Homo sapiens: one gene and its partner. The protein of the gene in region 1 purifies or fractionates together with the protein of each later gene. This does not show direct contact. Each region holds a gene or a part of one and is shown on either strand. Other genes may lie near its edges.

What was found. Proteins that work in one complex are often made in the same cells at the same time.
Region 2: the proteins of KDM3B (region 1) and LMNB2 purify together in Homo sapiens (affinity purification with mass spectrometry; one large-scale study listed by BioGRID and IntAct). This does not show direct contact.

What each region holds. Positions count from the first base shown.
Region 1 is NC_000005.10:138,394,134-138,397,783, forward strand, and holds part of KDM3B (lysine-specific demethylase 3B), read left to right. Parts: intron 1-3,650. UniProt on the Homo sapiens protein: Histone demethylase that specifically demethylates 'Lys-9' of histone H3, thereby playing a central role in histone code. Demethylation of Lys residue generates formaldehyde and succinate. May have tumor suppressor activity.
Region 2 is NC_000019.10:2,432,810-2,436,459, reverse strand, and holds part of LMNB2 (lamin-B2), read left to right. Parts: intron 1-1,288; coding exon 1,289-1,459; exon of another isoform or gene 1,460-1,546; coding exon 1,547-1,672; intron 1,673-1,944; coding exon 1,945-2,165; intron 2,166-2,354; coding exon 2,355-2,634; intron 2,635-3,650. UniProt on the Homo sapiens protein: Lamins are intermediate filament proteins that assemble into a filamentous meshwork, and which constitute the major components of the nuclear lamina, a fibrous layer on the nucleoplasmic side of the inner nuclear membrane.

The DNA.
Region 1 (3,650 bases):
TCCAGCACTTTGGGAGGCCGAAGCAGAAGGATCACTTGAGACCAGCATGGGCAACATAGTGAGACCTAGTCTCTACAGAAAATTTTAAAAATTAGCCGAGTGTGGTGGCACACACCTGTAATTCCAGCTACTCAGGAGGCTGAGGTGGGAGGATCACTTGAGCCCAGGAGGTCAAAGCTGCATTGAGCCTTGATCGTACCACTGCACTCCAGCCTTAGAAGCAAAGCGAGGCTCTCTCTAAAAGAAAAAGAAAAAATAATAAGTGATATGTCAGCTGATAATAACTATGAGAAAAATAAGGAAAGAGGATTGAAGTGTGAGGATGCTAGAGAGGCTACAGTTTTAAACAGGATGATCTGAGAAAGTGAGAGTTGAGGAACAGCCTGCAGGAGGTGAAAGAATACACCACACTGTGACAGGTATTCCAGACAGGTGCAAGCATCCCAAAGCTGGAGTATTTCTGGTGTGTCCATAAAGTTAGGTTGCTAAAATAGAATAAACAAAGAAGGAAAAGGAGTTGAGGTGAATGAGTTAATGATGGGTCCACATTTTAAAGGGCTATTCCAAAGGCCTTGGTTTTTACTCTGATGAGAAGTCATTGGAGGCCTTGAGCTGATGCGTGACACTGATTAATGTTTTAAAAGGCCACTTTGGCCACCTTTTTGAGAATAAGCTATGTAGAGGCAAGGGCAGAAGCAGAGAAGTTAGGAGGCTGTTGGAATTATCCAAGTGAGAAATGATGGGGCTTGGACCACGGAGATAGTGATGGACATGATGAGAAGTAGTTGAAGATAGAGTAGACATAATTTTCTGATGAATTAGATGTGAAGTATGAAAGAAAGGACTTAAGGATGATTCTATGTCTGGTTCTAGATATGTCTTTTGGCCTAAAAACAGGAAGAATGAGATTGCCATTTACTGATAAAGAGATTCTTTAGGGAAAAGCAGGTTTGGGGAGGAAAAGGGGGAGTTTTAACTTGGCCGTGTTAAATTTGAGATGCTTGTTAGATTTTCAAAGGAAAATACTGAGAAGGCAGCTGGGGATACAGCTCTAGAGTTAAGGGAAGGGGTCCTACCTGGAGATATAAATTTGGATATCACCAGGTATTTAAAGCTGTCAGTCTAAGTGAGATCAGAGCATAGATAAAGAAGAATAGCAGTCCAGGGACCAAACTCTGGTACTCTCCAATGTTTAGAGGTGAGAAAGATGGAAGCAACTAGTAAAGGAGACTGAGAAAGAACAGCTAGTGAAGTAGCAGGAAAACTAGGCAGTGAGGTATCCCAGAAGACAACTAAAGAAAGTATTTCCAGGAAGGAATAATGAACTGTGTCAAATGTTGCTGACTTGAATGGGGGCGGTAGCTCACGCTTGTAATCCCAGGATCTTGGGAGGCTAAGGTTGAAGGATCACTTGAGGCCAGCAGTTTGAGACCACCCTGAACGATGTAGTGAGACCCTGTCTCTACAAAAAATAATAGTAATAATAATAATTTTTTTTTTTGAGACGGAGTCTTGCCCTGTTGCCCAGGCTGGAGTGCAATGGCGTGGTCTTGGCTCACTGCAACCTCCATCTCCTGGGTTCAAGCGATTCTCCTGCCTCAGTCTCCTGAGTAGCTGGGATTATAGGTGCGCGCCACCATGCTCGGCTAATTTTTTGTATTTTTGGTAGAGACAGGGTTTCACCACATTGGCCAGGCTGGTCTTGAACTCCTAACCTGAGGTGATCCGCTTGCCTCAGCCTCCCAAAGTGCAGGGCTTATGGGTGTGAGCCACTGCACCCTGCACAAATCAATTTTTAATAAAAAAGTAAAAATGTTGCTGACAGGTCATGTTACATATGGACTAGAAGTGACTGATTTAGCAAGGTAGAATTACCTTATCAAAATAGTTTTGCTAGATTGGTAGGGGAATTGCCTGATTGTAGGGAAGAAAATAAAAGGGAAAGGAACCTATGGCAATGAGTATAGACAACTCTTCTTTTTTTTTAGATGGAGTCTTGCTGCCCAGGCTGGAGTGCAGTGGCGCAATCTTGGCTCACTGCAATCTCCGCCTCCCGGGTTCACGCCATTCTCCTGCCTCAGCCTCCCGAGTAGCTGGGACTACAGGTGCCCGCCACCACACCCAGCTAATTTTTTATATTTTTAGTAGAGACAGGGTTTCACCGTGTTAGCCAGGATGGTCTTGATCTCCTGACCTCGTGATCCGCCCGCCTCAGCCTCCCAAAGTGCTGGGATTACAGGCGTGAGCCACTGCGCCCGGCCAAGTATAGACAACTCTTTAGAGGAACTTTGCTCAAGCAGATAAATGGAGGGAGGGTATGGCTTGAGAGGATTTTTGTGGTAGAAATTGGAGCAAATTTATGTGCTGGCAGCAGTGATCTGATACAGAAGAAAATAGATGATGTTGAAAAGAGAGGAGAGATTTAGTGGAGAAATGCCTTTGGGTTGGGGAAAAGTGATAGGATGTAGTAGGAGATACTGGCCTTTGCTGGTTCAGAGCAGCGGGAACTCATGGAATACGTGGGCCAAGTTGCAGGGAAGTGTGGTAGTGTCGTGGTGGGAGCTTGTGGAGGTTGTTTTCTGGCTCCTCTTTTCTCAGTGGAATAGAAAACAAGGTCCTCACAGGGGAAGTAATATTGGAGGTATGAATAGAAGGAAGGTATGAAAATAGGCATCTAGAAGAGGGAATGTACCAAGAAACTGTATTGTGACTGTCAGGCAATATTAAGGACTCACTTGATGTAGGTAGACATGAATTTAAAGTGTTAAAAGGCCAGGCACAGTGGCTTATGCCTATAATCCCTACACTTTGGAAGGCCGAGGTGGGCGGATCGCTTAAGCCCAGGTGTTTGAAATTGGCCTGGGCAACATGGCAAGACCCTGTCTCTACAAACAGTTTTAAAAAATGAAAAATTAGGCCAGGCGCAGTGGCTCACGCCTGTAATCCCAGCACTTTGGGAGGCCGAGGCAGGTGGATCACAAGGTCGGGAGATCGAGACCATCCTGGCTTAACATGGTAAAACCCCGTCTCTACTAAAAATACAAAAACAAAATCAGCTGGGCGTGGTGGCAGGCGCCTGTAGTTCCAGCTACTGGGGAGGCTGAGGCGGGAGAATGGCATGAACCCCGGAGGAGGCGTTTGCAGTGAGCCAAGATCGCACCACTGCACTCCATCCTGGGTGGCAGAGCGAGACTCTGTCTCAAAAAAAAACTAAAAAATAAAAAATTATTTGGATGTGGTGGCATGTCCCTGTAGTCCCAGCTACTTGAGAAGCTGAGGTGGCAGGATTGTTTGAGCCCAGGAGGTCAAGGCTGCAGTGAGCTGTGATGGCACCACTGTGCTCCAGCCTGGGTAACAGAACGCAACTTTGTCTCCAAAAAATAAATAAATAAATTGTTACAATGAAAGTGGCTCTGTGTTAGCCGGGAGTGGTGTGGTTCATGCCTGTAATCCCAGCACTTTGGAAGACCGAGGCAGGCGGATCTCTTGAGGTCAGTAGTTCAAGACCAGCCTGGGCAGTAGTTCAAGACCAGCCTGGGCAACATGGCGAAACCCTGTCTCTACTAAAAATACAAAAATTAGCTGGGCATTGTGGCGTGCGCCTATAGTCCCAGCTACTCAAGAGGCTGAGGCAGGAGAATTAATTGAAC
Region 2 (3,650 bases), on another chromosome or scaffold:
TGACTGCAAAGGTGGCCAGCTTCCTTCAGAAGCGTTTCTACTGTTTTTGTTTTGTTTTGTTTTGTTTTGTTTTGTTTTTGAGATGGAGTCTTGCTCTGTTGCCCACACTGGGCCCAGCCTCCCGAGTAGCTGGGATTATAGGTGCACAGCACCACACCCAGCTAATTTTTTTCTTTTGAGACGGAGTCTTGCTCTGTCACCCAGGCTGGAGTACGGTGGCATGATCTCAGCTCACTGCAACCTCCGCCTCCTGGGTTCAAGCGATTCTCCTGCCTCAGCCTCCTGAGTAGCTGGGATTATAGGCGGGTGCCACCAACCCGACTAATTTTTGTATTTTTAGTACAGACGGGGTTTTCACCATGTTTGTCAGGCTGGTCTTGAACTTCTGACCTCATGATCCACCTGTCTTAGCCTCCCAAAGTGCTGGGATTACAGGCTTGAGCCACTGTGCCCGGCCTAATTTTTGTATTTTTAATAGAGATGGGGTTTCACCATGTTGGCTAGGCTGGTCTCGAACTCCTGACCTCGTGATCTGCCTGCCTCAGCCTCCCAAAGTGCTGGGATTACAGGCATGAGCCACCACGCCTGGCCCGCTTTCTTCAATAATGGCTTTTATAAGAGAGAGTCACTTTTTTTTTTTTTGAGACGCAGTCTCACTTTGTTACCCAGGTTGGAGTGCAATGGTGCGATCCTGGCTCACTGCAACCTCCCAAGGTCAAGCGATTCTCTTGTCTCAGCCTCCTGAGTAGCTGGGACCACAGGTGCCCGCCACCACACCTGGCTATTTTAAGTCCACCTTTTTAAAGTGTACAGTTCAGCATTGGCAGGATCTCCACAGGGTTGTGCAACCACCACCTCTAATTCTAGAACATTCCATCACCCAAAAAGAACCCCCTCCCCATCAGCAGTCCCCAGCCCTGGCCCCCACGCATCCCCTCCCTGTCTCTGTGGATGGGCCTGTCCTGGACATTTCAGGACATTTCATGGAAATGGGATCACGCACCGTGTGGCCTTTTGTGTCTGGCGTCTCTCATTGAGTGTGACGTCCTCAAGGTGCATCCATGCTGTGGCGGTGTCAGAGCCTCGCTCCTTTTCGTGGCTGAGTCACGTTCTAGCGCGTGGACGGCCCCTGGGTCGCCTCTCACCTGCACGTGTATCGGTTTGTAACTTGTGCACAAGGAACCAGGAATTGCCTGGAGGTTCCTCTTGGCACATTTTTGAGCCCTCCCTTGGGCCTGGTGCTTGGGGCCCAGGCGGGACCAGAGGGTCACGAAGCCTTGGTCCGCAGGAGGTGCGGGAGACGCGGCGGCGGCACGAGCGGCGCCTGGTGGAGGTGGACAGCAGCCGGCAGCAGGAGTACGACTTCAAGATGGCACAGGCGCTGGAGGAGCTGCGGAGCCAGCACGACGAGCAAGTGCGGCTCTACAAGCTGGAGCTGGAGCAGACCTACCAGGCCAAGGTGTGGCCGGCAGGCGGGTGGGCGGGGGCGGCCGGTGGGAACCCCGCCCCGCCCCGCGCCCGCACTCACCCGCCCGTCTCCCCACAGCTGGACAGCGCCAAGCTGAGCTCTGACCAGAACGACAAGGCGGCCAGTGCGGCTCGCGAGGAGCTGAAGGAGGCCCGCATGCGCCTGGAGTCCCTCAGCTACCAGCTCTCCGGCCTCCAGAAGCAGGTGATGAGCACAGCGCCACCGTCTGCCGTCCCCCTGGCCCAACTTCTGGGCCCTGCCCTGGATGTGCGGGGCGTGGGGCTCTGGCCTCTTGGCATCGGATGCAGCCCTCGGGGCGCCCAGCGATGCCCCTTCCCTCCCCTCCCGTGCGCCCCATGCCCAGGCCTGGTCTCTGCCCCAGTCTGTGGTGAGGGCCCATCTCCCGCAGTCCCAGGATCACCTGGGCCTTGTGACCCATGGGCTGCCCTGACCTTCGCCACCCGCCCCCTCCGCAGGCCAGTGCCGCTGAAGATCGCATTCGGGAGCTGGAGGAGGCCATGGCCGGGGAGCGGGACAAGTTCCGGAAGATGCTGGACGCCAAGGAGCAGGAGATGACGGAGATGCGGGACGTGATGCAGCAGCAGCTGGCCGAGTACCAGGAGCTGCTGGACGTGAAGCTGGCCCTGGACATGGAGATCAACGCCTACCGGAAGCTCCTGGAGGGCGAGGAGGAGAGGTGCGGCAGGCCAGGAGGCTTGGGAGCACAGAGTGAGGAGGAGGGGCAGGGCAGGAGGAGAGGCGGGACGGGGCTGCGGGGAGTGCTGGGCAGGGGTGGAGGTGGGGCCGGGCCGTGGCCGCCACTCTGCGTGCCCTGGGCTGTCTGGGGCTCCCACTACCAGTCCCACCTTCCTTGCCTTCCCCACAGGCTGAAGCTGTCCCCCAGCCCATCCTCGCGCGTCACCGTCTCACGAGCCACCTCGAGCAGCAGCGGCAGCTTGTCCGCCACCGGGCGCCTGGGCCGCAGTAAGCGGAAGCGGCTGGAGGTGGAGGAGCCCTTGGGCAGCGGCCCAAGCGTCCTGGGCACGGGCACGGGTGGCAGCGGTGGCTTCCACCTGGCCCAGCAGGCCTCGGCCTCGGGTAGCGTCAGCATCGAGGAGATCGACCTGGAGGGCAAGTTTGTGCAGCTCAAGAACAACTCGGACAAGGTGACCGGAAAGACCGGGGCATGGGGGTAACGGGGTGACCCAGCTGATGGGGGTGACCAGGGTCAGGGTGACGGGGCTGCCGGCCAATGCGAGGCAGGGGACAAGGTGACCGGAATGACCGGGGCATGGGGGTAACGGGGTGACCCAGCTGATGGGGGTGATCAGGGTCAGGGTGACGGGGCCGCCGGCCAATACGAGGCAGGGGACAAGGTGACCGGAATGACCGGGGCATGGGGGTAACGGGGTGACCCAGCTGATGGGGGTGACCAGGGTCAGGGTGACGGGGCCGTCGGCCAATGCGAGGCAGGGGACAAGGTGACCGGAATGACCGGGGCATGGGGGTAACGGGGTGACCCAGCTGATGGGGGTGACCAGGGTCAGGGTGACGGGGCTGTCGGCCAATGCGAGGCAGGGGACAAGGTGACCGGAATGACTGGGGCATGGGGGTAACGGGGTGACCCAGCTGATGGGGGTGATCAGGGTCAGGGTGACGGGGCCGCCGGCCAATACGAGGCAGGGGACAAGGTGACCGGAATGACCGGGGCATGGGGGTAACGGGGTGACCCAGCTGATGGGGGTGATCAGGGTCAGGGTGACGGGGCCGCCGGCCAATACGAGGCAGGGGACAAGGTGACCGGAAAGACCGGGGCATGGGGGTAACGGGGTGACCCAGCTGATGGGGGTGACCAGGATCAGGGTGACGGGGCCGCCGGCCAATGCGAGGCAGGGGACAAGGTGACTGGAATGACCGGGGCATGGGGGTAACGGGGTGACCCAGCTGATGGGGGTGATCAGGGTCAGGGTGACGGGGCCGCCGGCCAATGCGAGGCAGGGGACAAGGTGACCGGAAAGACCGGGGCATGGGGGTAACGGGGTGACCCAGCTGATGGGGTGACCAGGGTCAGGGTGACGGGGCCGCCGGCCAATGCGAGGCAGGGGACAAGGTGACCGGAAAGACCGGGGCATGGGGGTAACGGGGTGACCCAGCTGATGGGGTGACCAGGGTCAGGGTGACG